4 linked regions of the Homo sapiens genome follow. The protein of the gene in region 1 interacts with the protein of each later gene in a pairwise test. Each region holds a gene or a part of one and is shown in the gene's direction. Other genes may lie near its edges. The genes, in order: STK39, WNK4, AATK and SLC12A2.

Evidence for each region.
Region 2: the proteins of STK39 (region 1) and WNK4 interact in a two-hybrid assay, tested with the Homo sapiens proteins (one study listed by BioGRID).
Region 3: the proteins of STK39 (region 1) and AATK interact in a two-hybrid assay, tested with the Homo sapiens proteins (one study listed by BioGRID).
Region 4: the proteins of STK39 (region 1) and SLC12A2 interact in a two-hybrid assay, tested with the Homo sapiens proteins (one study listed by BioGRID).

The regions. Positions count from the first base shown.
Region 1 is NC_000002.12:168,237,573-168,244,596, reverse strand, and holds part of STK39 (STE20/SPS1-related proline-alanine-rich protein kinase), read left to right. Parts: intron 1-7,024. UniProt on the Homo sapiens protein: Effector serine/threonine-protein kinase component of the WNK-SPAK/OSR1 kinase cascade, which is involved in various processes, such as ion transport, response to hypertonic stress and blood pressure.
Region 2 is NC_000017.11:42,783,589-42,790,612, forward strand, and holds part of WNK4 (serine/threonine-protein kinase WNK4), read left to right. Parts: intron 1-348; coding exon 349-569; intron 570-833; coding exon 834-991; intron 992-1,508; coding exon 1,509-1,597; intron 1,598-1,677; coding exon 1,678-1,894; intron 1,895-3,689; coding exon 3,690-3,954; intron 3,955-4,189; coding exon 4,190-4,311; intron 4,312-4,541; coding exon 4,542-4,600; intron 4,601-4,701; coding exon 4,702-4,819; intron 4,820-5,092; coding exon 5,093-5,209; intron 5,210-7,024. UniProt on the Homo sapiens protein: Serine/threonine-protein kinase component of the WNK4-SPAK/OSR1 kinase cascade, which acts as a key regulator of ion transport in the distal nephron and blood pressure.
Region 3 is NC_000017.11:81,128,215-81,135,238, reverse strand, and holds part of AATK (serine/threonine-protein kinase LMTK1), read left to right. Parts: exon of another isoform or gene 1-737; coding exon 738-871; intron 872-1,930; exon of another isoform or gene 1,931-2,043; intron 2,044-2,944; exon of another isoform or gene 2,945-3,194; intron 3,195-3,284; exon of another isoform or gene 3,285-3,337; intron 3,338-4,033; coding exon 4,034-4,178; intron 4,179-5,617; exon of another isoform or gene 5,618-6,081; intron 6,082-6,689; coding exon 6,690-6,769; intron 6,770-7,024. UniProt on the Homo sapiens protein: May be involved in neuronal differentiation.
Region 4 is NC_000005.10:128,086,744-128,093,767, forward strand, and holds part of SLC12A2 (solute carrier family 12 member 2), read left to right. Parts: intron 1-7,024. UniProt on the Homo sapiens protein: Cation-chloride cotransporter which mediates the electroneutral transport of chloride, potassium and/or sodium ions across the membrane. Plays a vital role in the regulation of ionic balance and cell volume.

The DNA.
Region 1 (7,024 bases):
CTTTTGCTTAAACATTACACGCAGAAGTTAGCAGTTCAAACACTGAACCAGTTTCAACATGAATGCCAGTTGACAGCCTTTGCTTCTACCCGCCATACGGCAGGTGTCATATGATATGACTCCAGCAGTGTGAACCGTGACCAGCAGCAGGAGGCTCAGATGTGCCTGAACAGAAAACCAAAGGAGGCACCGTGTTTTAACTTTCCAGCATGGCACGGGCACGGAGGACTTTTTCTTCATTTCCTTCTGGGCAGAGTTTGGTCCCCCAGGATTAAGAGAGAATAAGTTTACTAAAATCCAAACAAAGCAGGTTCAGTTGTTTGACTTCAGTTTTAGAAAAATAAACACAGGATTTTGCAAACCTAAAAATAAAGTTTTCTCTTTATTGTATTGTTGTTCTTGTGTTTTAAAACGTCAGTGGAGAAATTGTAATGCTCTTAGGAGTATTCTGGTTCATAAGTTTATTCATGACCTGGAAATGATGTAAAATCGATGGGAGGGAGCTTTATATTTACAGAGGGGTTAAAAATGTTGGAAATTATTAAATTCCTTCTTCCAGACATTGATATCCTTGTCTTAGTAGATTTCAAATATTTCTGTCTTTTTGGAGGCTTTCCGACCTGTTTATACTCTTCAGCCTTGTTAATCTTTGTTCCTTACCTCTCTAAAGAAGGAATTTGGGGGTGAGTTGAGCCCCCAAAAGTAGGTACCCCTACCTTTAGAAGTATAAGGGGCACTTAAAGCTATGCCAGTTGAAAACTTAGTTTATTTGTTGGGGGTGTTAATAATATTACCTAGATTTGCTAAACAGGGAATGAAAGTGAATCATATAAGTGTTTACTTGGCCATCCGTAATGGAATGGAGCAGCCTCAATGAACTTCTCATTCAAAGAATTGTAGTCATTGAAGTACTAATTTCTGTATTTGAATTAGGTGATTCCAGCAATGTTGTTATCTTTGCTGAATTTCTTCTGAGAAACCCTAGACTCCTGCCTCAGCAGGAGTTTGTTTGATTTTCTTAGGGTTTTTGCAGGATGCACCTTTCTTTATGTAGTTTTATACTAGATTTCTCAGCATTGCTTCACTTTTGTCCCGGGTGGTCATTTAGAATGACCTAAAAGTAACAAATTGCCATCTTAGTCAACACGAAGAATTTGAGTTCTAGAATCCTGGACATGGTTTGACAGAGGGTTCCTTTGAATGCTTTATTTCTCTCCTGTGAGGCATTGTTTATCCATTCAGGTGCGTTTTACTCAGGTCCAGGTAATAGCACATATGGCCAGGTCTTTAAGGAGCAACAGCCTCTTGTAAAATGAGATTGTAAATAGCCCTGGGCATTCCCACTTTGCTCTGTGCTCTCAGAGTTTCTGTGGATTTCTATGGTTTGGGGGTTAGAATTGGTTTTTATAGATATCCTAGAGGCAGTTTGAGGACAGTGGTACCTTCGCTGGCGCTAGGGTAAGGGAGCCGGAGCACTGAGTGTGTTCTGATCTCCCAGACCTTTATACCAGGCTGCCTTGCTGCTGCAGTGGGTTCTTTGATCTTGATTAGTTTGTTTGTTGTTGTTTTTAAAATACTAAATGATGTCTGAAATGCTTTGTCTCAAGACAGGGCTTTGATTTTCATTTCATTTCACTTTCTTTTTTAATAAATAGAAAAATGTATATAGAAATGTTCTTTTGTATTTTGTATTTTTTTTTTTTTGATAAAGGGTCTCACTCTGTCACCCAGGCTAGAGTGCAGTGGTGCAATCATACCTCACTGCAGCCTCGAACTCTTGGGCTCAAGTGATCTTCCCACATCAGCCTCCTGAGTAGCTGGGTCTATAGGTGCAAACCATCATGCCTGCCTAATTTTTTTTTTCTTTTTTTATTTTTAAGAAATGGGGGTCTCACTATGTTGCCCAAGCTGCTCTTGAACTCCTCCGCTCAGCGATGCTCCGGCCTTGGCTTCCCAATGTGTTGGGATTACAGGCGTGAGCCACTGTGCCTGGCCTCTTTATATATATATATATATATATATATATATATATATATTTTTTTTTTTTTTTGTAAGAGTCTTGCTCTGTTGCCTGGGCTAGATTGCAGTGGCGCCATCTCAGTTCACTGCAGCCTCTGCCTCCTAGGTCCAAGCAGTTCTCCTGCCTCAGCCTCCCGAGTAGCTAGTATTACAGGCCTGGCTAATTTTTGTATTTTTTGATAGAAACAGGGTTTCACCATGTTGGCCAGGCTGGTCACAAACTCCTGGTCTGAAGTAACCCGCCTGCCTCAGCCTCCCAAGTTGCTGGGATTACAGCGTGAGTCACTGTGCCCGGCCTCTTTTGTATTATTTTTATTGTGGTAAAATATACACAACAAAAATTGTACCATTTTAACCGTTCTTAAAGTGTGCAATTCAGTAGCATTAATTATATTTACAAGATAAATACTCTTTTAAATGTGCTGTCATGGGGCTGGGGGGAGAGATCTCAAGATCTCTCTTGAAACTGTGGTAAAGTGACTGCAATCCTTTATTTATGCATTTGATTTTTAACTAGTGATATTATGAATTCTTCCCTGACTTTTATGGTTTATTGTATAGTACATTTTGTGATGGTGTTTGAAAATAAGTTGCAGCAGTGCCGGCTCTGGAGTCTGACAGCCTGGCCTGTTTCATGTCCTGCAATGGCGGTCACTGACGCTGCGACCTTGAGCAAATGACTTAGATGTGTCTGCACTCAGTTTCCTCATTGGTAACATAGGGATGATAAAAATAGGGTTGTGAGGAATGAGAGAATGTAAAGCACTGAGAATCGTGCCTGGCACACAGCATGCTTTCAATTAGTCTTAGCCATAACTTCTATAGACTTCATTTGCTAATCAGATGCAAGTTATCAGGAGAGAACACAGTCCTATCTTTGGCAGGATTCTGGAGTGGCTTGAAGATTTCTGTGCTATGTTTCTAGCAGGGAGGAAGTGGGAAAGAGAGGTTGTTCCCTATTCCCACTCTTGTGCTGGGCTGCTGGAAGGGGCTTACAAGGGGAGAGGCCCCTGGGGATCTGGCTTCCCCTTGCACCTCCACTGCTGTGGGAGGAAACTGAAGAGACCTGTGGAGCTCCTGGCAATTTGGACAGCTCAGGGGTTTAGGTGCCAAATGGCCCTCTGACAAGTGATGAGAGCATCCTGCGGGAAGGTTGCTGAAGAGGAGCAGCCCATTATGAGAGGGCTCCGAGAACAACCTGCTAGGACTGCACTTTTCCTCCACCTCTGAGTTTGCCCGGAGGCTGCCATGCTGGCAGGAAATGCTGCTGACTAAAAGAAACGCTCCCTGTGTGTCCCAGCCAGTGCGAGGACAGAGGCCTTCATTTTCAGATAAAGTCATCACCATTGCTTCCCTGTCTCCTTCTTTCCCTCTTTGCTTTTCCCTCAGTTTATAAATATTCTCAAGCCTGTCTCTTATGTTTAAATGACAAAAGAGAACAAAACAAAACACTCTCCCTACTTCTTTCTCCTCTGGCTACTCGGTTATCTCGTTTCTTCCTTTCACTGCTAAATTGTTGGAAGGAACCTCCCATTCCCTCTCAGCCCACTGCAGTCTGGCTTCTGCCCTTTCCCTAAGAAACCCAAGTTACTCTCTGAAATCACTGTGACTCTTCTGTGGCCAGAGCCAGTGGACACTGCAGTCCTTTTCTCTGCTCTCTGCAGGGTTAGGTGCCATCTTTCATTCTCCTTTTGGAAAGGCATTTGCTTGAGCTTCCATGCCATGCCTTCCTTCTGGACTTCCTGTACTCCCTTGCCTGCCCCAGATCCACATCTCTGTCTGTCTGAAGCTTCAATTACCACATCAAATGCTGAGGGTCTTCCTGACTGTATACCAGTGTTTGGACTACCTTTTTAATGTCTTCGTTTGAATGTTTCACAGGAACTTCATACAGTTAAACTCATTGTCTCTCCACCCTGGCCTCAGTCCTAATCTTGTTTCTTCTATATTCATCATCTTTAGAGCCCTCAAGGGCAAAACCTGCTGGCCATCCTATACTTTCCTGTCTTTGTCCATCTCTCACATCTGTTTGGTCACCAAGTCCTAAATACTCCACCTCCTTGAGATCTTCTTTGATTTGACTCTGACTCTTCATGTCAGCCACCACTGGTTTAGTTCAGGCCCTTATCGATTCTTATTTGGATTATTGTAATAATTTCCTAACCAGGTTCCTTTTTTCCATTCTTGTTTCTGGCTGTAGTGTGCATTGCTACCAGAAAGATACTGCTATACCAAAATTCTTGATCACGTTGCTCCCAGGCTGAAATGCCTTTAGTAGCTCTCCCGTCACCCTCAAGACTTAATTTGAAGCACAGTGTTTAAGGTCTTTTGGGAATTGTCTCTTGCCTCCCTTTTCAGCCACATCTTGTAATTTCCAGTCTCAGGACAGACTCTCCAGCCAGTGGGAACCTTTTGCAGTTGCTGAAATGCCTCTTCTAGGCAAGATTTCCCTCTGCTTGGAACACCATTCCAAGACCCTTCCCTTCCATTTTTCATCTATGTAGCAAAGAGCTCTGTCTTTTCTTTTAAATATTGCCCTTATTGAAGTATAATATGCATGTGGAAAAGTGTACATATAAAAAATGTATATCTTGGTGCATGTTCATGAATTGAACACACCATGTAACCAGCACCCTGACTGGGCCTCTCTTCTCATACCCTGAACAAGTGATTTCTTGTCACACAAACAATCTCTGCCTCTAGAGCCCCCCTCCCCCCTTGCCCTTCAGGCTCTGTTGGGTCTTTCGCTCCCTGGCAGTTGTCACACTATCTGCAAATTGTATTTTCCTTGCCAGCCTGGCTCTAGACTGTTAAGTCTTCCTTGAGGACAGGGTCTCTCATCTCCCTACCCTGCATGTCATAATAGATATTTAATAAATGTTTTCTGGATGAAGTTCTGAGTTTTGGGGATAAATACTCCTTCCTCACCTTGTGGAGGAGGAACATTGCCTGACGTCTAAAAATTTGCCTCACTGGATCCTGAGGATTTGATCTTGCCCGTGGTTAATGATGGGGTTTATTTAGTTGCGTTTGGGCCAATCAGCTTAAAGGGCTCTGTAGAAATTAGCTCATTAATCCTCACAGATCAAGAGTAAGCACTTTGAGTGCGTCCACCTGCCTGTGTTGTGGAGGTAGGCAGGCAGAGGCCTGGCTCTCCTGAGGTCTTAGGACTGAGAGGTGGCCTTTCTGGCTGGATTAAAGGACCCAGAGCTCCCTGCCACAGTTCTGGCATCCGTAGACATTGTAGGGTGGAGTGGGGAAGTCCCACACTGCCCTTCAAAAGCTCTAGAGCTTTCTTTTCTTTTGTATATCAGTGATCTCTCTCTCTTGCTGTTCATGTATTTATATATAACACTCACCTTGAAGTTCTGTGGAGCCTCTTCCTGTGTAGGAATCAGGGCTGCTGGAGACGATCAGGGATGCAGGTGAAACACAGGAGCAGAATTGCAGAACAAGTGGCTTTCAAAGGTTGTTAGGATGGCAGGAGTTCTATTTTTATAACTTATAAGGGACTGACATGATAGGATGGCTGTGGTACCTGCTAAGACCATAGAACCGGGTCATTCTAATAGATGTTATAATTCCTTTACAGTGTACTTTTTGGGAAAGTTTTTTTTTCCTATTTAAATAAAATTCTCCATGTAATCATGTGAAGTCATACGTTTTCCTCTAGGATAGTTGTGTTTAGATTATACCAAAACAGCTCTTAGTTGAAGTGATTCAAGTGTTTCTTTTTTCCCTATCTGCCATCAATTGGCCAAGTTTTTGATACTAGACAAGAATTCAATATATTAATTAAAAAGTCATTTCAGACTTGGCTTAACTGAAAAGCAGAAGAGAAAAATCCTTTAGAGAATGGATTGGCATACTTTATTTCTAGAGTCGATTTAGATAAATACTTTGGAATCCGATGTGAGTAAATGATATGTTTCACATTTCTTCTCACTTGCCAAACAGTTATTTGAGAATAAACTCTGGCTTAGCTTTAAGAAACTTCTTGGACATTGAGGATTGAGATTAATTGACCTTTTAAACTGATTGTGTATTTTGATATATGGGAAAACATTTTAAGATAGAAATGGTAGAGACCTCTACATTCATATTATCCCTGACTTTATTTTCAAACTTCTTCCAGGTAAGTGGCATTTAGTATAACTCTCAGAAGCCTAGTATTGGGGGTGCTCATGTGATTCTTCCCTTAGGTAAAAAATATACATTTTATTGACATTTATGGGTTTAGGTTTCTAACTTTTAGTTACCACTGGAGCTATTTGTCAGAAAAAACTAGATGGAAAGTAGAGGTGGATGACTTTCTGCCCTGTGAATGATAGATCTTCATTCAGGGAGTATTTTGGAGCCAGTGACCTGTGACAGTTGTGAGACTTCTCATAATCATTCTGTGGATGGTTGGGGTCTTAGAAGAAGTAATGATTTTGTTTTGAACTGGTTGCATCAGTTTGAACCAGAGTTTGTACTAAGGGTATTCCAACTGCTTTATTTCCTACTCTGTTTAGTCTGGGGATTGAAAAAGGATTACATTTTGGGTAGGTTGGTGCCTATTGACCTATCCTGTGTAGCTTAGATTTTAATTTGAATCATCTGGTTCTCTTTCTTTCTCTCAGGCAATGTCACTATCTCTGTTTGTTTAATTATGGGGTGACTCAAGAAAGCAAAGGAAGAGGAGCAGCAGACGGGGTTTCCTGGGGAAGGAATGGCAGGTCATGGCTGGTTTTTATAAGTGAGTTCCTAAGTGAGAAGTGGTACAAGAATATAGAGAGAATTAGGAAATTTAATTTTAGAAGAGACCAAAGGAAAAAAAATCCATCCCAGCTGCTTTGTCTTGTAACTGAAAACTCTCTAATGGCCAAAGTTGAAGAAACTTGCCTATGGTCCCAAAGTCCTTAGAATCCCAGGCTCCAACCCTTCATGCTAAAAACTCTCAATAAATTAGGTATTGATGGGACGTATCTCAAAATAATAAGAGCTATCTATGACAGACCCACAG
Region 2 (7,024 bases), on another chromosome or scaffold:
ACCTTTGAGCTCCTACTCATCATTCAAGATGCAACACAAAAGTATTTCCTCTCCGAAGCTCTCCCTCATGCTTGGGGCAGTTAGTCATCCCTTCCTGCGCTCCCACAGCACCTTGGCCGAGGCCCTATCTATCAATTTACTTCCCAACCCGTTTGGTAACGTCATGTCTATCCACCATGCCCCCTGACTCAGTTTCTCCCTGGGGCCGGGCAGACATAGGCTAGGAGAATGCTGGCAGAAGATGCGGAGGCGGCAGCAGGGTGCGGCAGGGGGGAACTTCCCAGTGGGGGGCTCCTTCCCGGAGGACGTGTCCCCCCACCAGGACTCTGGCTATGCGCCCTCCCCCAGGTACCTGAGGCGGTTCCGGGAGATGAAGCCGCGGGTCCTTCAGCGCTGGAGCCGCCAAATCCTGCGGGGACTTCATTTCCTACACTCCCGGGTTCCTCCCATCCTGCACCGGGATCTCAAGTGCGACAATGTCTTTATCACGGGACCTACTGGCTCTGTCAAAATCGGGGACCTGGGCCTGGCCACGCTCAAGCGCGCCTCCTTTGCCAAGAGTGTCATCGGTGCGTCTCTCCAGGAGGGTCCATGCCATTCCTTCCTCCCCCACCTCAGAAGAGAACCTGGGGACTCCCTCCCCTCAGCAAGGGCCTTCAAGGTCCACAAAACTACCAGACGACAGGGAAGCTGAGGAGACCTATGGCACCCACCTCAACCCCACTGTGGGCCGGGGTCACTTGCACTCGCAGGGTTGCCTGGGGCTGCCTAGCCCAGTGGGAAGGACGAGGCCAGAGTGCCCAGCAATCTGATCCCTGCTGTGGACCCTACAGGGACCCCGGAATTCATGGCCCCCGAGATGTACGAGGAAAAGTACGATGAGGCCGTGGACGTGTACGCGTTCGGCATGTGCATGCTGGAGATGGCCACCTCTGAGTACCCGTACTCCGAGTGCCAGAATGCCGCGCAAATCTACCGCAAGGTCACTTCGGTGAGAGGGATGGGGCTGGCGGGAAAGGCAATTCCAGGGCCACTTCCCCTTTTCCTGCGCCGGCCAGCCCGCAGTCAATGCCCTTTGCCTGCACGAAAACAGGCTAGACACAGAGTCGCCTTGGTGAACACAGAAGGATATTGAGTGCACACGCGCCCCCACCAGTACACGCTATTTAGAATAATAATATGTGTGGTGCTCCCAAGAGTTCACAAATGATTTCGCATCCCATCTCTCATCCAATCCTTCCAGCTGCCCTGTGAGGTGAGCGGGGCAAATGTTCCACCCTGCGATTTACAGATGAACAAACAGCGGGAGACTTGTTCAAGATCACACTGTAAATACTTGGGGGGGGGGCGGGGATTAGGATTTGAAATCACATCTTCCAGTAGCAGTCAGGCTTTTGCAACTGCACGCGCAGCTGCCTAAGGAGGGAGTGGAGTAAGGGGTGGGGGGTGGTGTCAAGCCGAGAGCTGGGGATCAGAGGACGGGAGGTGTCATGCAACCCCTTCCCCAGGGCAGAAAGCCGAACAGCTTCCACAAGGTGAAGATACCCGAGGTGAAGGAGATCATTGAAGGCTGCATCCGCACGGATAAGAACGAGAGGTGGGGGTGAAAGGGCAGAGCGTGGGTAGAATAGGGCCGCGGGCCGCGGCGGGCTCGGCTCACCCACGCGTCACCCTCAGGTTCACCATCCAGGACCTCCTGGCCCACGCCTTCTTCCGCGAGGAGCGCGGTGTGCACGTGGAACTAGCGGAGGAGGACGACGGCGAGAAGCCGGGCCTCAAGCTCTGGCTGCGCATGGAGGACGCGCGGCGCGGGGGGCGCCCACGGGACAACCAGGCCATCGAGTTCCTGTTCCAGCTGGGCCGGGACGCGGCCGAGGAGGTGGCACAGGAGATGGTGAGCGGAGGACAGACTGTGCTGCCACTGGACGTGTAAAGGACATTGACTCGAGGGGACAGTGCAACAGGGATGGGGCGCAGGAGGGGTGGCAGCGATGGGGGCGGGGCACCTCACCCCTCTCAAAATCTCCTGCAGCGTCTCCCTACCTCTCCAGCCCTAACTTACCCGCACGCACACCCAGTTTTCCTTTACAGAGGGAGCCCTGGGTCCTCCAGCGTCCCTGCTTTACCTCCAGCTGATCTGTTCTTCCTGGGATGCCCTTCTTGCCAATTCATCTTTTCCTTCTTTCCTCCCTCCCCATTTTTCTTTTTCTTTTTCTTCCAATATGATCAGAACCATCGATTTCGGGAAGCCGTCCCCTTTGGAGTCAAACTTAAATGCTTCTTTCCACTTCAGCATGTTCTCGGTTACAGCACTCCCCACTATCGGTCCTGTCTTAAACCTGAATAAGTTCCTATCTTTCTTCTCCACTAGACTATAAACTCCCTGAGGGCAGAGACTGTGTTTTATCGATTCTTCTATCCCTGGCAGTGCTTGGCACATAGTAAGAGCTCATTAATAGCCTACATCTGTACATGGCTTAAAGCACTTTCACATGCATTTGATCTTTGCTACCCATCCTGCATAGGGGGCAGTTTTATCTCAACTTGTTGATGAGGAAATGGAAATTCAGAGAGGTTGAATACCTTGTCCAGGGCCCCAAGTAAGTAAGTGGAAGAGCTGGATTGAAACTGAGGTGGTTCAGATTTTAAATCAGGTTACCCTTCCCCACCTCCTTTACTCATTCAGCAAAGCTTGCGGCTAAAAGGAATGAGGAGGTGATGAATGGAAGCTGGTAGAAGGGGAGAGGCATAAGATGCAAGGGCAGAAGCTTGGGGGCTGGCTTAGGAAGTCCTGAAGGGAGTATGGGATTCTTTTTTTGGGAGTAATGGAGTCTCACTCTGTCACCCAGGCTGGAGTGCAGTGGCGCTATCTCAGCTCATTGCAACCTCCGCCTCCTGGGTTCAAGCAATTCTCCTGCCTCCGCCTCCTGTGTAGCTGGGATTACAGGCAAAAGCCACAACGCCCAGCTAATTTTTGTATTTTTAGTAGGAACGGGGTTTCACCATGTTGGCCAGGCTGGTCTCGAACTCCTGACCTCAAGTGACCCACTAGTCTTGGCCTCCCAAATTGCTGGGATTACAGGTGTGAGCCACCGTGCCTGGCCGAGTATGGGATTCTTAATAGAGACATGACAGTTGCAAGGGTGGAGACCACCTACGGTAGGTCAAGAATCTGAGAATGTGTTAGAAATTTAGAGCAGGTCTCCATAGCACGGCCCAACCTGACCTGAGATCAAATCTTGATCCATTGCTGACAAGGGATTCTTGGCCTTGGCACTGTTGACATGTTTGTTTTAGGGACTGTCCTGTGCATTGTAGGATGTTGAGAAGAACCCCTGGCTTCCGCTCACTAGATTCAGTAGCACCTACCCTCCAGTTGTGGCAACTAAAAATGTCTCTAGATAGTGCCAAACATCTCTTCTTCCCATTGGAAACCACTGACTTACTGTATAACTATGAACCAGCTACTTCATTAATCTCTAAAAATCGAATGGTAAGATTTATCCCACAAGGTTGTTTGGAGGATCTAGTGATGATAATGTAAGGAGCTGCCAGTTAACAGACATAGTGGGTAATCAGTAAGTGTTGGTTTTCTTCCTCCCATATCCTGGAGTTCCCAAGAAGGCGTCCTGATGGATCTTTGATAGGGGGTCCCAAGCTGTGTTCCTCATCCCCCACCCCAATTCCAGGTGGCTCTGGGCTTGGTCTGTGAAGCCGATTACCAGCCAGTGGCCCGTGCAGTACGTGAACGGGTTGCTGCCATCCAGCGAAAGCGTGAGAAGCTGCGTAAAGCAAGGGAATTGGAGGCACTCCCACCAGAGCCAGGACCTCCACCAGCAACTGTGCCCATGGCCCCCGGTCCCCCCAGTGTCTTCCCCCCTGAGCCTGAGGAGCCAGAGGCAGACCAGCACCAGCCCTTCCTTTTCCGCCACGCCAGCTACTCATCTACCACTTGTAAGTCACCCCTGATCTTGAGACGTAGGTCCCAGAACACCTTGGCCTCTGCCCCCTACCCAGAAGTTCACCCCCACAGCAGTCACTTACCCTGCCTTCCACCTCTAGCCATGAAGCTCCCTCCAGGAAGGAACTCTCCCACAGCTCCAGGCCCCTCCTTGCTTAGGCAGGCCCCATCCTCTGCCACTATTCCCTTTTATTTCCCCTTTTTTTGATCCTCTCCCTCCCCAACCAGCGGATTGCGAGACTGATGGCTACCTCAGCTCCTCCGGCTTCCTGGATGCCTCAGACCCTGCCCTTCAGCCCCCTGGGGGGGTGCCATCCAGCCTGGCTGAGTCCCATCTCTGCCTGCCCTCGGTGAGAGGGGGTCGCATGGGGGGCTCCCAGCCATTCCAAGCCTATGACCTATCTCCCTCCTTGTGAAACCCAATCTCATGATCCAGTCCCATGTCCCTGGAAATCCACCATTCTTGCCCTCCTCTTCCCTAATTCCATCTCCCTAATATCCTCCCAGCATCCTTGACACCATCTCCCTAGATCTCAACAGTTATCTTCCCCTGACCTCATGAACCCTTATCCTGTTTCAGGCTTTTGCCCTATCCATTCCACGTTCTGGCCCTGGAAGTGACTTTTCCCCCGGGGACAGGTATGTTCTGGTACAAGTTGGGGTGCCAGGGTGAGACACCTGGGGCACTGGGGTCCCAGTGTCTGCTCTGACAGTCATTCTCTCTCCTTTCTCTTTAACAGCTATGCCTCAGATGCAGCTTCAGGCCTTAGCGATGTGGGAGAAGGGATGGGACAAATGAGGAGACCCCCAGGGAGGAATCTCCGGCGCAGACCCCGATCCCGGCTGCGGGTCACTAGTGTAAGGATGGAGTACAGGAGATAGAGAGTAACCTACAGGGCCAGGAGGGAAGTGTCAGGGGGAGGCGGGGGAGGTCACCCAGAAAACGGGAGAAGCAGTGTATGACTAGTACTCAAGAGGCGGCCAGTCTGGTTTCTAATACCAGACTTTAGAGGTGGGGTCTACTTATCTCCAAGTCCATTGTGGCTGCTGTCACTTGGCTGGGGTAGGGTGGAGACACAGCATGATGAAGAGGGCTTGACCTTCTCCCCTCTGCTGACTTTGAATCTGAAGGTCTCAGACCAGAATGACAGAGTGGTTGAGTGCCAGCTACAGACCCATAACAGCAAGATGGTGACCTTCCGATTTGATCTGGATGGGGACAGCCCGGAAGAGATTGCAGCTGCCATGGTGAGGGGGAGAGAGATGAGGACAGAGTGTTTGGATCTGGAACAAGAGTCTCCTTCCTGATGTCCGCTGGGGCTGAAACCCACTGATCCGACAGCAAGCATTTTTAAATCTCTGGTTGACACTTAGCACAGTAACGCTGAAGATGTCTCAGCCCTTGTTTTGGGGGAGATTTCTGTTTATCCAGTGAGGTTTGGCTTCTCAGCTGGAGCAATTTGAGACTCACATTGACCGGGTACACACAAGTGCTACGTATAAGTGCCTGGTAGATGTGCAATACTGTGGCTGTAGGTGAAGGATGGACTGGGCAGCAGGGGCAATGAGCTTACCCAGGATCTTGGCAAATGGGCAAGAAAGGCTGTGAAGGGTGGAAAGGCCATGAAGGGTGTCCCTGTGCAGGGACAGCATAAGCAAAGGCATTCCAAGTAGAGAGTGTCTTGGAATATGGGGCTGGGAGGGCTTCATGAGGAAACCACTATCACTGGAAGTAAAGATTCCTATAGGAGAGTTGTGGGGAGTGAAGCCGGGTAGGTAGAGTGGGCCCAGATTGTAGAATAGACAATGTTAAGAGTTAGGCAGAGGCCAGGCGTGGTGGCTCACACCTGTAATCCCAGCACTTTGGGAGGCCGAGGCCGAGGCAGGCAGATCACCCGAGGTCAGGAGTTCAAGACCAGCTTGGCCAACATGGTGAAACCCCGTCTCTACTAAAAAATACAAAAATTAGCTGGGTGTGGTGGCGCATGCCTGTAGTCCCAGCTACTTGGGAGGCTGAGGCAGGAGAATTGCTTGAACCCGGGAGGCGGAGGTTGCAGTGAGCCGAGATCACACCATTGCACTCCAGCCTGGGCGACAAGAGTGAGATTCTGTCTAAAAATAAATAAATAAATAAATAAATAAATAAATAAATAAATAAATAGAGAGGCAGAGCAGGCTAGGTCCAGTGGCTCACACCTGTAATCCCAGCACTTTGGGTGGATGAAGTAGGAGGATTGCTTGAGCCCAGGGGTTCAAGACCACCCTGGTAATATAATGAGACCCTATCTCTACAAAAAATTTAAAAAATTAGCCGTGTGTGGCGGCACATGCCTGTCATCCCAACTACTTGGGAGGCTGAGGTGGGAGGATCACTTGAGCCTGGGAGGTCAAGGCTGCAGTGAGCTTTGATCACGCCACTGCACTCCAGCCTGGAAGACAGAGTGAACTTTGTCTCAAAAAAAAACAAAAACAAAAAAACAAAAAGGCACAGTGTAACGTGACAGTAGGCTTTATGAAAATCATCTGCCATGGGATGTGGAAGGGGGAAGGGAAAATACCTGGGAGGTAGACCCAGGAAGCCATCTGTGGACAAAGGAGAGAGTGGCTTATGGGAGGGAAGAGGAGAAAGGGTGAATCTGAGGGTTGTTTCGGGAAAATAAGTTACTCTGTAATCCAGTAACCTATTGACGTAGTAGAGAACATAGTACATAGTAGATGCTCAATAAATATTTGCTGAGTTGATATGATTGGGAGTTAGGGAGAAGGGATGTCAAGGACAACTTGTAGGCCACCAAAGGAGAGTAGGAGAGTAGGCCACCAAAGGAGAGAGGAAATTAGAAATGAAAGAAGGTTTTTTTTAAGGAGGTCATGATGAGCTTGAGTGAAGAAGGGACAGCCAAGACAAGACCCTCCATAGCCATGGATATGGGTCAGGCAGGGCTGGAGAGATGTGGATGGAGGAGTAGTCAGTACAGAGTTGAGAGTGAAGGGAGATGAGCCGGCAAAGCCAGAGACACAGAGGGTTGCAGAGTGTGTCTCAGCGCATACCACCAGTTCTGGAGT
Region 3 (7,024 bases), on another chromosome or scaffold:
AAGCCGGGCTCAGCTCAATACTCCGAAGTTGGGAGGGATGCTGTACTGTCAGTTCCCCTCTGGGATGAGGGGCTCCATGGACCAGCAGCTGCAGAACGGGGTTTCCCCATGGTTCCCAGGACAGAAGCAGCACCAGAGGGGCCTGGCAGTGGGTTTGGCAAGGGGACGGATTCGAGGCAGCAGGTGGCACACGGGAGCCCTGCTGCCTGGCAGAGGCAGCACCACCTTCTCAGGGACAGTGAGGTCCCCGCACCTCAGAGGCTGGAAGGGCCTTGAGCCCCCGCTGTCCAGAGCCTGGTGTGTGGCCAGCAGATAGCAGCCAGCAACATGGTCTCCCGTGTTTGACAGAGTCCATGTTCCCTTCCCAGCCCCAGAGGGGCAAGGTGGGGTGACTGGGATCTGGGAGGGAGATGGGGGTCCCCCTGTAGCCCCTGAGACCCTGACCTCTCAGGGGTATCTGAACCCCAGAATTGGGAACTGGGCAGGCTCTGGTCACTCTGCCAACCCTATGTCCCCCTGGCGAAGCCAGGGTGGTGTCCAGTGGCTGGCTGCAGGACTGCAGGCTCTGGCCACCTCCTCGCCACACTGTGAGGTGTGGGGTCTGGGGTGAGAGGTCAGGGTGCTGAGGCCCAGCCTGGAATGCAGCAAGTCCAGGTGGGGCTGTGGAGCCCAGAGCAGGGGCAGGGGCCTGGCCGGCCCTCAGCCATGGCCACTCTCACCACACTGCTCTCCCGCAGACGGCGCCCCGCTCAGCGAGCTGTCCTGGCCATCCTCCCTCGCCGTGGTGGCTGTGTCTTTCTCCGGGCTCTTCGCCGTCATCGTCCTCATGCTGGCCTGCCTGTGCTGTAAGAAGGGCGGTATCGGGTTCAAGGTGAGGCCTGGGGGCCGCGGGAGCTGTCGTGGGATCCCGCAGGCAAGGCCTGTAGCGTCCACTTGACCCTGAGCTTCCCTCCTTCCTGGGGCCATCAAGGTGGCTGCTGGGTGGCCGTAGTTGCTGTGGGGCCACCTGGGGACCACGTGGACCCTGGCCCAGGGACTCCATAGCTCCTCCTCAGGGACCTGCCCCAGCTTCCTCGACTTTGAGGCCCTCTGTGGGGGGCGTGGTCTGACGCTCCCACTCCAGCCTGGGGTTGGGCCCGAGCACTCACGGAGGCTGAGGACAGCCTTGCAGGGGGCGTCGGGGGCTCTGGAGCTGGTGTGGGAGGGGGCTTGCCTCCCTAGAGGCCCGACTCCTGGTGGAGGAGCTGCCTCTGCAAGGGGCTCTCACGTCCCTCCGAATTCAATCTGCAAAGGGGAGTCCGGGCTGCCCAGACAAGCTTCCCGGCACAGGGACCTTCTTGCCAGTTGGAGTCACCTTGCGCGGGGTATCTTCTGCCTTCTGGAGGGGACGATGTGTGATGCTAGAGCCCAGCCTGCTGGTTAGGGAGCCCCGCCAAGGGTGAGGCCTGGCCTCACTAGGCTGCCCCTCTGGAGGCCAAGGCCCCTGGCCAAGGACAGGTGCCAAGCACTGCTCCTCCCCCTGCAAACCCCCAGCCCACCTCCAGCTGTAACTCTGAGCAGCAGGGAGGGCCAGGCAGAAGGAACCCCGGCCAGCATCGCCTCCCCCTCCCAGAGTCTCCATGGGTCCCATTCCTGCTGATGAGCAAATGACACCCTGGCCTGGACCTCTGGTGGTTCACACGCCCACGGGGGTCAGCCCCACCCCTGGGCCAGAGGTCAGATTCCTACGCCAGGAGAAGTCAGGGAGGGAGGAGGGTGGGAGGAGGCATTCTGCAGCGCGCACAGCACCCTGTCTGTATCTCAGGGTGCCTTCCTACTAAGTGACCCATGACTCAGCTGGCGCCACCCCCATTTGGGAGACAGTCCCAGAGTCCTCCCTGCCCCTGGTATGTCATGACGCAGAATGGGCCAAGGAGCTGGCTCTGCCCACCTGTCCCGCTGGCCTGGCAGGTGACGGTGCTGGATGTGGCCTTTTTGCCTTTTCTAAAGGCCACATTTTCCAGCCCATTCAACCTTCCAGAGCCCTCTGAAGTGGCCACAGGCCCCATCAACCAGTGAGGAGCTGCGTGCCTGGGGGGCAAAGCTGTGGCCCCAGGCTGTGGGGTCTGCACTCCTGCCCAGAGCCCCCACCCTGCTCTGGGATGTACCCCTGACCCGCTGGCACCAGGGGCCAGGCCAGGCCGCGCAGGCGCCTTCCTGGGGATCCCGAGGCCAGAGCCTCAAGGTCTTGGCGGGAGCAGGAGTGGAGGTGGGGCCTGGGTGGGACGAGTGGGGCTATTGTATAAGTGGCCCCTCCTTGGGGCACTGTAAGAACAAGGCCCCAAACAAGGGCTGGCCATAGCTCCTCCTCCTGCGCCCTCCTCACCTCCTTGGGAACATGGTGCCCGGAACATTCCAGCACCAGTGTGCCCCTGGGAAGTCCTGCCTCCACACTGGGCTCCCTCCTGGGATTTGGGGACCTGCGCTGGGCTCCCTGGTGGGGAGCTGTGCTGAGGGAAGGGGCTGGGCAGGCCCCCAATGCTGACCCTGTGCTACCTGATTGCACGCTGTATCGGCAGGACCCGGCTGGCCCCCGGGCAGCAGGTAATGCCTGGAGCCCGGGCCCGACCCCAGGGAGAGACAGCATCTGTGTCCTGGGCCCCTCTACAAAGCCCAGATGGGTGGGGCCAGGCCGGGGCTGGGATTGGAGGGCCCAAGAGGGGGCTTCTGGGGTGGTCTTCTGGGTCCCGGGGAGGGGAAGTTGCCCACGCAGCACCTGCGTCCCCCATCCCTGAGTGGCTGTGTGCTCCGAAAGGGCAGGCTGGGCCTGGCCTGCGGGAATACCGACAGAGCCACCTGCCCCTCTCTTTGCAGCCCAGGGAAGGGAGGCGTCCCCAGGGTCACACGTCGTACTTGAGGAGCCCAGGCCTCCCCTCCCACTGCACCTGCCTGTCCTCGGACTCACCAGCCCGGGTGCTGGCCAGCATCCAGCTGGAAGTCCCTTGACTCCTCTGAGCCTCAGCTTCCCCACCAGGGCACTGGGGGTTGTGAGGAAGGACAGAAAGGCTGTACCAAGTGCTCAGGGATTGGGGCTGTCATTGTGTGCCTGGAGCAATTGCTTTCAGCTGGGCCCAGGACTTTGGAGACTTTGGCTCTCAGCGCAGGAATGTGCCCTGGACTTGGGGGTGGGGTATCCCCTATACAGGTGCAGCCTCTACATTTCAAAATAGCAGCCTGGCAGGGAGTGGCCCAGCCCTAGGCTGCACGGGGCCAGGCTCTTAAGGAGTTCTGGGAGCTCCGGAGGTGGTGTGGCCACCAGGTGAAGGTCCAAGGCTGCTGGGGCAGATGGCGGTGGCAGGTGGGCTGCCCAGGGTAAAGGTGGCCGGTTGGCTCTGGGCTCCCAGACATCCAGGAATGCTCCTTGTCCCGGCAGGGGTGGGGGCACTTAATTGCTTCTCCCACAGGACTGTGGGGCAGGGGGTGATGGAATTCCTGTCCCCGAAGCTGCGCCATGGGAGGGTGGGACCCCAGGCACAGCCCGGGGTGAGGGGCTGCTCGGGATGTGGGTGGCTGAGAGGTGCTGGGGGCTGATTCTGGATGGGCAGGGCCAGCTGGCCTGAGTGCCCTCACCTCTGTCCCTTGGTTCCCTGCCTCTAGACCCTCAGGCCCCAAGGTGGGGCTCAGCCTGGGCTGCCCGCCAGGGAGGGATGGGGGAACTGAGGCCAGGCTGAGGCGCTGGTGCCTACAGCTCATCGCGCCCTTTCTGGAGTCTGAGATGGGTCCTCTTGGCTCTGGGATCTGCCTCTGGCCCCTCATGGAACAACTGAGCCTCTGGTCGGGGGCGTGGGGGTCAGCAAGAGGAGACAGATGGAAGGGCAGTTAGCAGGGGTGCTGGGCCATTGGCCTGCAGGGGCGGTGGCTCCAACTCTGGGCCGAGCACCCCCTCCTGCCCTGCCCTGGGAGCTCGGCCCTGGAAGAAAGGGGCCTTTCCAGGCCCAGCCACACCCTTCCTTGACCTGCGAGAAGCCCCGCTCATGCCCGGCCCGGCCCGCAGGAGTTTGAGAATGCGGAGGGGGACGAGTACGCAGCCGACCTGGCGCAGGGCTCCCCGGCCACGGCAGCACAGAACGGGCCCGACGTGTACGTCCTGCCACTCACGGAGGTCTCCTTGCCCATGGCCAAGCAGCCTGGGCGCTCAGGTGAGGGCTGGGTGGGGAGATGGGGTGGCCTCCCTCCGGGGCCCAGGTGCTGGGCGTTGGGTGTGATCTGGGGAGACCGGAAGACTCAGCTCTGGAGTGGGGGCAGCACAGGGCTGGGAGTGGCCTGTGGGGTAGACGCAGTGTGCAGCCCTGGACTCCCTGTGGCTGCGTCACAGGCCGCACTGTGGGGCCAAAGGTGCATGTACCTCTTTCTCCTGGGCCTGGGGGCCGGCCAGGGGTTGGCAGGGTCCAGGACAGCCCTCGGCCTCCAGCCTCCCCTGCCCAAGGGGCTGCTATGCACAGGGACAGGGGTGGGCACGGGGCAGGGGTGGGCACTGGGGCAGGGGTGCGGGCTCTCTGGTCCTGGACATGGCCATGTGCTGGGGGCAGGGGCTCTTCTGCAGTCCAGGGATGCTTGACCCCAGATTCCTGCCCCCTTGAGCGCCAGCCCTTCAGGGACACGGGTTCCATTGTGCATGGCAGGAGGAGGGGCGCTGGTGGGGCCCGTGTGGGCGGGTGGTGAATTAGCCTTTCACTCAGGCTGCGAGGAGGGGCCGAGGGGTGGGGCTGACCCAGGAGTGCAGGTGCAGGCAGGGCCTCAGCCACAGCCTCATCTGCCCCCATCCTAGGGTCCTAGGCCGACCACTCACATGGGGCGGACGTGCTGGGGAGTTTGGGGGTGAATGGCCAGGCTTCAGGACCTCCCAGTTCTGTCTTGGAGCCTAGGTGGTGGGTGCGGGTCCCTCCAGAGCTATCAGATCTCAAGCCCCCTCCCAGGAAGCTTCCAGCCTGAGGCTTCCCCCATCACTGCCCACCCCCAGCTCCTCTGGGAACACAGAGGCAGGAGGGGTATCAGGCCAGTGGGAGGGGCCCCTGCCAGCCCTGTTGGGGCTCTGTTGGCACCAGGGCCTGTTACTGCGGTGCCATGCAGGCCACCTCACCTGCTCTGAGCCGTGCCTGGCTGGACCCTGAGAGCTGGCTATGAACTGTGCCTGGCTGGGCCCTGAGAGCCTAGCCTTCATCGTGGGCTGAGAGGCCCAAGGCACTGGTCTGGGACCTAGAGAGGGCCCCCAGCCCCCAGCTTTGGAGCCAAGGCCTCAACGCCTGTCCTACTCTGCCCCATCTCCTGGAGGACAGGTTCCCAGTTCGGCAGGAATCAGGGCTGGCACTTGAGCTCGAGTACATCTGTGGGCGGGCGCGGAGGACTGCAGCCACCCACTCAGAGCGTGAGGCCCTCGGACCTTCCCGGATGGCTGTGGGGGTCCCTGAGCCCTGTGCTGACCCTGCTGGGAGCTGCCAGGGACCATCCGAGGGGGTACTGCCCTTGGGTCCAGGGGCAGGTGTGTGCCTGGCCCCCGAAGATTCTCAGAGCCACCTCTGGAGGATTGCTGTGGGGACTGGGGTTGGCGAACAGGAGCCCGAAAGAAGGCACTGGTTACCTGTCTCTCTACTTTTGCAGCTCTGGTTTCAGTTTTCTGGGGGAGGAATGTGCTTCTAGGGAGGAGAGAGATTGGGGTGAGGTCAGAAAAGTAGCCCCAGAGGTCAGCGGGGAGAAACCTGGGCAATGGCCCCACCCGCTGGGGACCGCAGAGAAGGACGGCTGCCTGCTGCCTCCGGCAGTGCCCAGGGCCTCTGAACTGTCTCAGCACCCATGGTCAGGACCCCCACACTTGCTCAGGGACAGTGTGGGCCTGGGCGCCCCAGGGTGAGAGAGGGCCGCCCAGACAGGCTGGGCTCAGGACACAGCACCCGGTGGGCCCACACGCTCAATTCTGCCCTGCCCCGCCTCTACATTCTCTGGGTCTCCAGGCCCTGGAAGGAGCCCCCTCCCCCTGGGCTCTCCTGGCAGCCAGGCTCAGACCCAGGCCTGTCAGCCCTCTGGGCAGTTGACGTGGGAGCAGAATTCGGGGAATCCCTCGGGGCGTGGGCAGGCATGAGTGGGCTCTGCCAGCGCTGGCCCCTTCGTCCCGGGCCTCACTGACCCTTCCTCCCGCTGACCTCACCCGGCCTGGCCCTCGGGGAGAATGGGCCAGTGTGCTCCGTGCGGGGCCGTGCCAAGCAGCCCCCAACAAAGGAGCCTTTGGTGCGCCCGGCGTGGGATGCCAGCCTGCGGCAGGGTGGGGGTGGGCCGCTCCAGTGCCCTCTCTGTGCCGTGGCCCCAGCCTCTTGCTCAGCCACACTGCCTGCCTGGTGCAGCCCATGTGACGGGTCGAGCTCCGGGCCCTGCTGTCCCTGGCCGGGCTATCCCAGTGGCTTCAGGCACCTTCTCCAGACCTACCCAGAAAGATGCCCGGATGGATCCTGCAGCTCCGTGGCTTTTCTGGGAAGCAGCGGCCCCTGCTCTCAAGAGACCCTGGCTCCTGATGGTGGCCCCAAGGTTGCCAGCTGGTGCTAGGGACTCAGGACAGTTTCCCAGAAAAGGCCAAGCGGGCAGCCCCTCCAGGGGCCGGGTGAGGAAGCTGGGGGGTGCGGAGGCCACACTGGGTCCCTGAACCCCCTGCTTGGTTACAGTGCAGCTCCTCAAGTCCACAGACGTGGGCCGGCACAGCCTCCTGTACCTGAAGGAAATCGGCCGTGGCTGGTTCGGGAAGGTACGTGTCCCGCCTGGGAGGGAGGACTCCCGCCTGGGAGGCAGAAGGGACACAGGGCTGCAGACCTGCTCCTCCTAGGAGCCACCCCAGCCCCGACGGTCCCTTCTTCAGTCTCTGGGCCCTGCTGGACCCTTCCCCAGGGAGGTCCTCAGCATCTGGCTGCATCCCCTTCTCCCTAGGGGGTCCTGGGGTCAGAGGTACCTGGGGAGGGGCCCTGGGAGGGAGAGGAGCAGCCTCTTGCTCATGGCCTTCCCC
Region 4 (7,024 bases), on another chromosome or scaffold:
ATGGGTGTTAAGTAGTACAAATATGACTATACATCACTGTCGAAAGAGGGGCAGACAGGAGGGGTTATAACAGGTTGGCTGGATCCCCAGAAGTTGTCCCTTACTCTGTCTAAATTGACTTCTACCTCTCTAACACCTTCTGTAATGTTTCTAGCCTTCAGTGAATTATAATATTTAGAATTTTTATAACACCTAATTCTAGCAGTCGATTGATTGGCATATACTCTACTTTGGTCTACTAAGTGCATAATTATCTACCATGGGACTAACTCTGTGTTGGGAACTACAGAAGAAGAAAAGAAGTAAAATACTTCAGAAACTTGTTAGGGAAAAGGACTGGATTGTCTTCCCTCCAGTTGAATTCCTTTCATTATCCATCACTGACTTTTTAAAAGTATTTTGTCTAGATGTCCAACTGTAGGGGAAAAGATAAATATCCTTGGTGCATCTTGCTATATTATATAGCCATTCTAGGACCAGTAGGCATGAGTTCTCCATTTATGAGTTATTGGGGAAGGGGGTATCTTAGATGTTGACAACATGCTTGTGACATTGTGGGATTATGTGGTGATTAGCAAACCAGTTACTGCTTCTGCCTAGACAGACATTAACAAAGTAGTTGGACAAATAACATAGTTAATAACTGTTTTTTAAGTGTTACGAAAGAAAAGGATACTTGTAAAGATAGAATAGGACCTAATTTTAATTGGGTTTTGGGAAGGCGTTTTTTTGAGAAGTATGACATTGAAGCTGAGACCTGAAGGGTAAGTTGATGATTGGGTGGAATGACAGTCCTGACCAAAGGGACAGCGCACATGAAGGTAATGGGGTGAGAAAGAGTGGTATATTAACATAACTAAAAGGAGATAACTATTTTTCATTATAAATGTAGTGGGACGCTATTGAAGAATTTTGTGTGGGGTAGCCACATGACCCATTTTGTTTTAACATCTTTAGGCTCTGGGTGGAGAATGGATTGGCAGGGGCAAGAATGGAAGCAAAGAGACTCAAGTGATTACTGTGGTCTGGTTGAGAGATAGTAAAGGTTGGTGGCACAAAGGATTGGATGTGGGAGTGAGAAAGAAGCTGACTTGTAGATTTTGAACTTGAGAAACTTAATAGATGTTGGTACTGTTGCTTGAGATGAGAAATACTGGAGGAGGAATAGATTTGGTGGTTGGGAGAAGTTTGTATTTGAGGCTATTCTGTTTCAGTAGCCTATAAAGACAAAGACAACTTATTCCAAGAGTCGTGGAGGAGGCTCTGTGTGTGTGTGTGTGTGTGTGTGTGTGTGTGTCTGTATATAAACATATGTAAATATATATATTTACATATAAAGATTTGGTTGCTTAAGGTCATGGACTAAATTACTTAGGGAGAGTGGTAGATAAGAGAACAGAAAATAGGGTCTGGCATTGGACTTGGAGATTGTTTAAAGGTCTGTTAGAGATTGAGGAGCCATTAGCAAAGGAAATTAAGGAAGAGCTGCCATACTGTCAAATAGCCTGGAGAGCAGTGTTGGGGGAAGCTGAGAGAAAAGAGTTTTTGGAAAGGCAGAAACTCTTCAAAGCTGATGCTAGGAATTGATTTAAAAATGTATATACGTACACACACAGAGTGAAAAATCAAAGTATGGATTTTTGGCCCTACAAGAAGAAATAAAAGGTGGAGGGTAACAAAGTATTTGATGGACATCTTCAACATGTATGATGGAATGCTAGATTATCAAATGTGGAAAGTGGAGTGGTAGACAATCCATACTAGCTCCTACTGGATTTAAAGCATTATTAAAGTAGTTTTTTGTTTTTGTTTGTTTGTTTTTTGTGTGTGTGTTTTACTATTTTGTGTTTTACTATTTTGACTGCTAAACCATAATTTCTAATATTTTTGTTTTTAAAGGTAGCATTACCATTGCAGTTGTCCTTGGGCCAAGGCTTAGGAGCCTTTTGCTGGTGGTATGTCAAGGGTTTCTATATGATTCCTGTATTTTTGCCTTTCTCATTAACAAGGGGAAAGGTCAAGGGAGCAACTATATTGTCTTTCATGTGTCACTTTGCTTGTTGGATTTTCATTAATTCCTAAGAAATAGGTCTTATACACATTTTACTCAAGATGAAATGAGCTAATAGAAACAGAAGAAATTGGCCAGGTGCGGTGGCTCACTCCTGTAATCCCAGCACTTTGGGAGGCCGAGGCGGGTGGATCACCTGAGGTCAGAAGTTCGAGACCAGCCTTAACAACATGGTGAAACCCTGTCTCTACTAAAAATACAAAATTAGCCAGGCGTGGTGGCGCATGCCTGTAATCCCAGCTATTTGGGTGGCTGAGGCAGGAGAATTGCTTGAACCCAGGAGGTGGAGATTGCAGTGAGCCAAGATTGCGCCATTGCACTCCAGCCTGGGCAACAAGAGCAAAACTTTGTCTCCAAAAAAAAAAAAAAAAAGAAAGAAACACAAGAAATTGCTTAATAGCCACTTTTACAAAAAGTGCAGCTGGAGGACAGGCACCATGGTAGGAGCCTGTTGTCCCAGCTGCTTGGGAGGCTGAGGCAGGAGGATTGCTTGAGCCCAGGAGTTTGAGACTGTAGTGCACTGTGATTATGCCTGTGAACAGCCACTGCGCTTCAGCATGGGCAAAACAGCAAGACCCTGTCTAAAAAAAAATAGTAGTACAGCTCAATTTGGACTTCACATCCAGGTTTTTCTGACTTTAATGCTAGGACATAGTAGCAGCAGGTTCTTCTCTCTTTATCTTTTCTATCCCTTAGACCTGTTCTAAGATAACAAAGATGTTGAGGGGGACCCCTTGGGGATTACCACCACCATTTCTCTACCTTGAACTCCTGAGAGTTGAATGATTATATAACTGACAGAAATCAAGAGATGTGATGATGTAAATATTATTATGACTTCTTCACTAGCATCTGTATAAGTGTTTATCTTCATACAGAGAATAGGCACTTAATAAAGATTTGTTCATGGAATGTACAAATCAGGTGAGCAGTTCCTGTCACTTAACAAGGACTTTAAGTAAAACACTAAATAATTACAGAATCTCCTCTAACCATGAGCTGCTTCTCTGAGTGGGCTGTGTTGATGCCTAGTCAAGAAATTTCACACACTATTAATCATTTCAGTGTATAGCTTTAGTCCTTGAAAGTCACCCTGGGGGAACAAGAATGTGTCTCTCGAGGGTGAGGGGAAGAGTAGAGTAGTGTCCAGAACTGGGTAAAGGTGGGACCCTGATAAGAAATATTTACATGTGGCAAAGTCAAATTTGGCTGATTTCACAGTTTTGCCAGGGGCTTTGCCCTGCTAAACCCATGCTACTTGCCATTGAAGTCAGGCTTACCCATAATACTAAATGCATTCCCCCAGGTGTACACTGACTGAAGTAGTTCTACAATGCGGCAAACAGGTAAAATTGCAGCTACTGCTTTGTTAAATAGAAAACAGCTTTTAATTTTTAGCATAAAAATTTCCTGGGTAGAAGGAAAGAAATTTTGGGATTTAAAATGTAGCAAAAAATCAGTACACTGCTAAATTGATATCTTCTCTGTGTGTATTTATGTTCATACATTTTAAAATCCTGTGAGACTAGAATTTAAAGGACCAAAATAGAGTTTCTTGGTTCTTATGTGTGGAGTGTGTTTGCTTTCAATGATATTTCATTATATGTTACATATATATATTTGGGAAGTCTATAGTATAGTCCTATGCTGAAGTGAAATAAATGTGAACCTAGTTATTCAACAAATCCTTGTTGAACATCAACAACAACACTGTTCTAAATGCTGGGGATATAGCAGTAAACAAAACAAAGTCATGGGGCTTTCATTCTAGCGGTAGGAGACAATAAACAAACAAAATTAAAGCAGGGCGAGGAAAATTAAAGGTGGCTAGATGATGGCTGGGTGATGCTGTTTTAGCATTGTTAGGGAAGACCTCTGATATGTGAGCAGGCTCTAGAAAGGGGTGACCCCCATGCAGATACCAGGGAAAGAACACTCTAGGCAGAGGAACAACAGATACCAAGACCCTGAGATGGGAGTGTGCTTGGTGTGATGGAGAGACAGGGAGGTCAGCAAGACCGAATTGATGAGGCAGTGTGATAAAGTCAGGGGGTAGTGAGGACCAAATAGCGCAGAACCTTGCAGATCATGATAAAGACTTAGGATTTTACTCTGAGTGATTTAGGGGAAGGCATTGTAGGGTTTTGAGCACAGATTTGACATGATCTGACTTATGTTTTCAAAATACCACGCTGATTGTTGTGTAGAGAATATACTGTAAGGGGGCAAGAGTAGAAGGCAGGAAACCAGTTAGAAGCCTACTGCAATGGTTCCATTAAGATGATAATGACTTTTACTAAGGTAGTAGTGATTGATACAATGAGAGGTGTTCAGATGCTGGATGTGTTTCAGAGGTAGAATTGTTGGGATTTGCTGATGGTTTGGATGAGGGGATGTATGGACAGAGTAATACTAGGGTTTTCCCCCTATTTAGAATGGAGTTGATATTAATGGAGAAGTCTGTGAGAAGGGCAGGTTTGGGAGATGGACTCAAGATAGGGTTTCATTCTACAAATTAGTTCTCCAATGAGGCAAACAGGTAAAATTGCAGATACTGGTTTGTTAAATAGTAGAACTTAAGAAAACAGCTTTCATTTTTAGCGTAAAAATGTGCTTTTGCTCTTCAGGTAAAACCATGAAAACTAGTAGTCTTTCAAATACTGTACAAAGGGGTAGGGAACTAGTGGGTTGATTCCACAAAGTGAAAGCCCACTGAGGGTGAGCAACAAGGAAAATTACTTAAAATACTGAAGTTAAAAACATTAGTGGTGTCTCATTTAAACCATGAAAGCTACTATCAGCTGAGGCCCTCCTTTGTCTTTTTCCATTTTCACTAGGATCTCTACCAACACTAGCTTAAAGCTATTATGAAAAACTTGGAGCTGGTAGAGAACTTGGGGGTTTCTAATTGGAAGAAGGGGGAAAGCCAAAAAGAAAAAATAGCTTAGTGGAATGTTGACTCTCAGCAGAAGCTAATTATGGCTAGTACACTCATAGTATCATTGGACTCAGAAATTTCCCTGCCTTAATTTTTAAAAAAATTCTGTGCTTTTTCTGAATAGTCACAAATTAGATATTCATCTAGGTTCAGAATTCTGGAAACCTGTGGGATAGTTCTTTGTTGGGTAAGTGTGAATTAGTTCTTCCATCAGTTTAGTTTCAAACAGAATTTGGTATGGTATGCTAGCCATTTTGGAGACTTTTGCAAGGGAGCGTAGGTGGTTTGGCAGGGCAGGCTTGAGTATTCCAGTGGGGAAAGACTTAGAGGACCCTAATCATTAGAGACCTGCCCTTCCCACAGACTTCTCCATTAATATCAACTCCATTCTAAATAGGTATTACTCTGTCCATACATCCCCATCCAGACTATCAGCAAATCTGAACAATTATACGTTTGAAACACATCCAGTATCTCAATACCTCTCATTGTATCAGTCACAACCACTTTGGTAAAAGCCCATTATCATCTTAATGGAACCATTGCAGTAGCCAAGATGAGAGGAAGGGGGTGATTAAAACATTTAGCTGCAATTCAAGAATTGGGCTATAGGGCTGACGGTCTTGGAAAGAGGTAGGAAACTTCACAGAGCATGTCTGGACTGAGGACCCCAGTCCGAAGTTTGGACTAGCAGTTGTTGTGATTATGGCCTGTTACCATTTAAGGTCTTTATCAGTGCTGTCCGATAGAAATATAATATGAACTACATATGTCATTTAAAAAAGTAAAGAATCAGGCAAAATTAATTTATAATATACCGTATTTTATTTGACACTGTGTCTAAAACATTCATTGCAGATATAATGAATATTAAAACATTTATAATGAGATATCTCAATTTCTTTTTTTTGTACAAAGTTTGAAACCCCGTGTGTTTTTCACATACAGTACAGCACATCTCAATTCAGACAAACATTTCAATGGTGTTGAAGTAGTAGCTCCTTGTGACCTTTGATTACTATATTGGACAGTGTAGATGTAAACAGTACTTGGCAGTTTGGTTCTGAGGTCCTATGATTTTCATTTTTCTTCTTGGATATTTAACTGTTCCTGTCAATAGTTTACTTCTGTTAAAGAAATTTGAGTAGCTTCTATCTGACAGAAAAAGCGGAATATTTTATTTAACTCTCATTCCTTTCCAGGTACAAGCTCTTTCCTTCCTTCCTCAGCCAGACTTGTTGAGAGTATTGTTTATAATTGCCGTCTTTCCTTCCTTACCTTTTACTCAAACTGCTGTAGTGTGGCTTCTATTTTGCATAAATAGTTCTTGTTAAAGTCACAAGTGATCTCCATTCTTATCACAAATTTCAGGAAGTTTTTGTTTTGTTCTGTTTTGTTTTGTTTTGAGCAGTGTTCAGCTTTCAGGCAGCATTTGGTGTTCTTTTGAAGTGTTTTGGTCACTTCCTTGGCTTCTTAGTTTTCCTTCTGCCTTTCTGACTCTTTCAGCCTCGCATCCTTTGCAGTCGCCTCCTTCTCTAACCTGAACATCCTCAAGGCTTTATTTGGACTTTTCTCCTTCCTTGTTCCTCTTTTTTCTCTCCTTATGCTACATCATCTGTAGTCCAATGACTCCCGAAATTTCGTCTTCTACCCACACTCCTCTGAGTTCTGGGTATCCAATGCTTGCTTGACATTTTTGTTTTATGTCTCAAAGATAACTCAAGCTCACAAACTTAGTATTTCTTCCCATTCCCTCCAGAAACAAGAATCCAGGCCCTCTGCCAGTGTGTGCTATATCTCTCGGAATGGTACCACTATTCATCATACTGCAAAAGTGAGAAACCTATGAGTCATCCTTGACACTTTTCTCTCATTCCCCCATCCAATCACTGAGTTCTGTCAACTTGAATTTCTAAATATTCTTTTCATCTAAGCTGCTACCATCCTATTAGGTTGGTGTAAAAGTAATTGCATTTTTTGACATTGAAAGTAATGCCAAAAACCGCAATGACTTT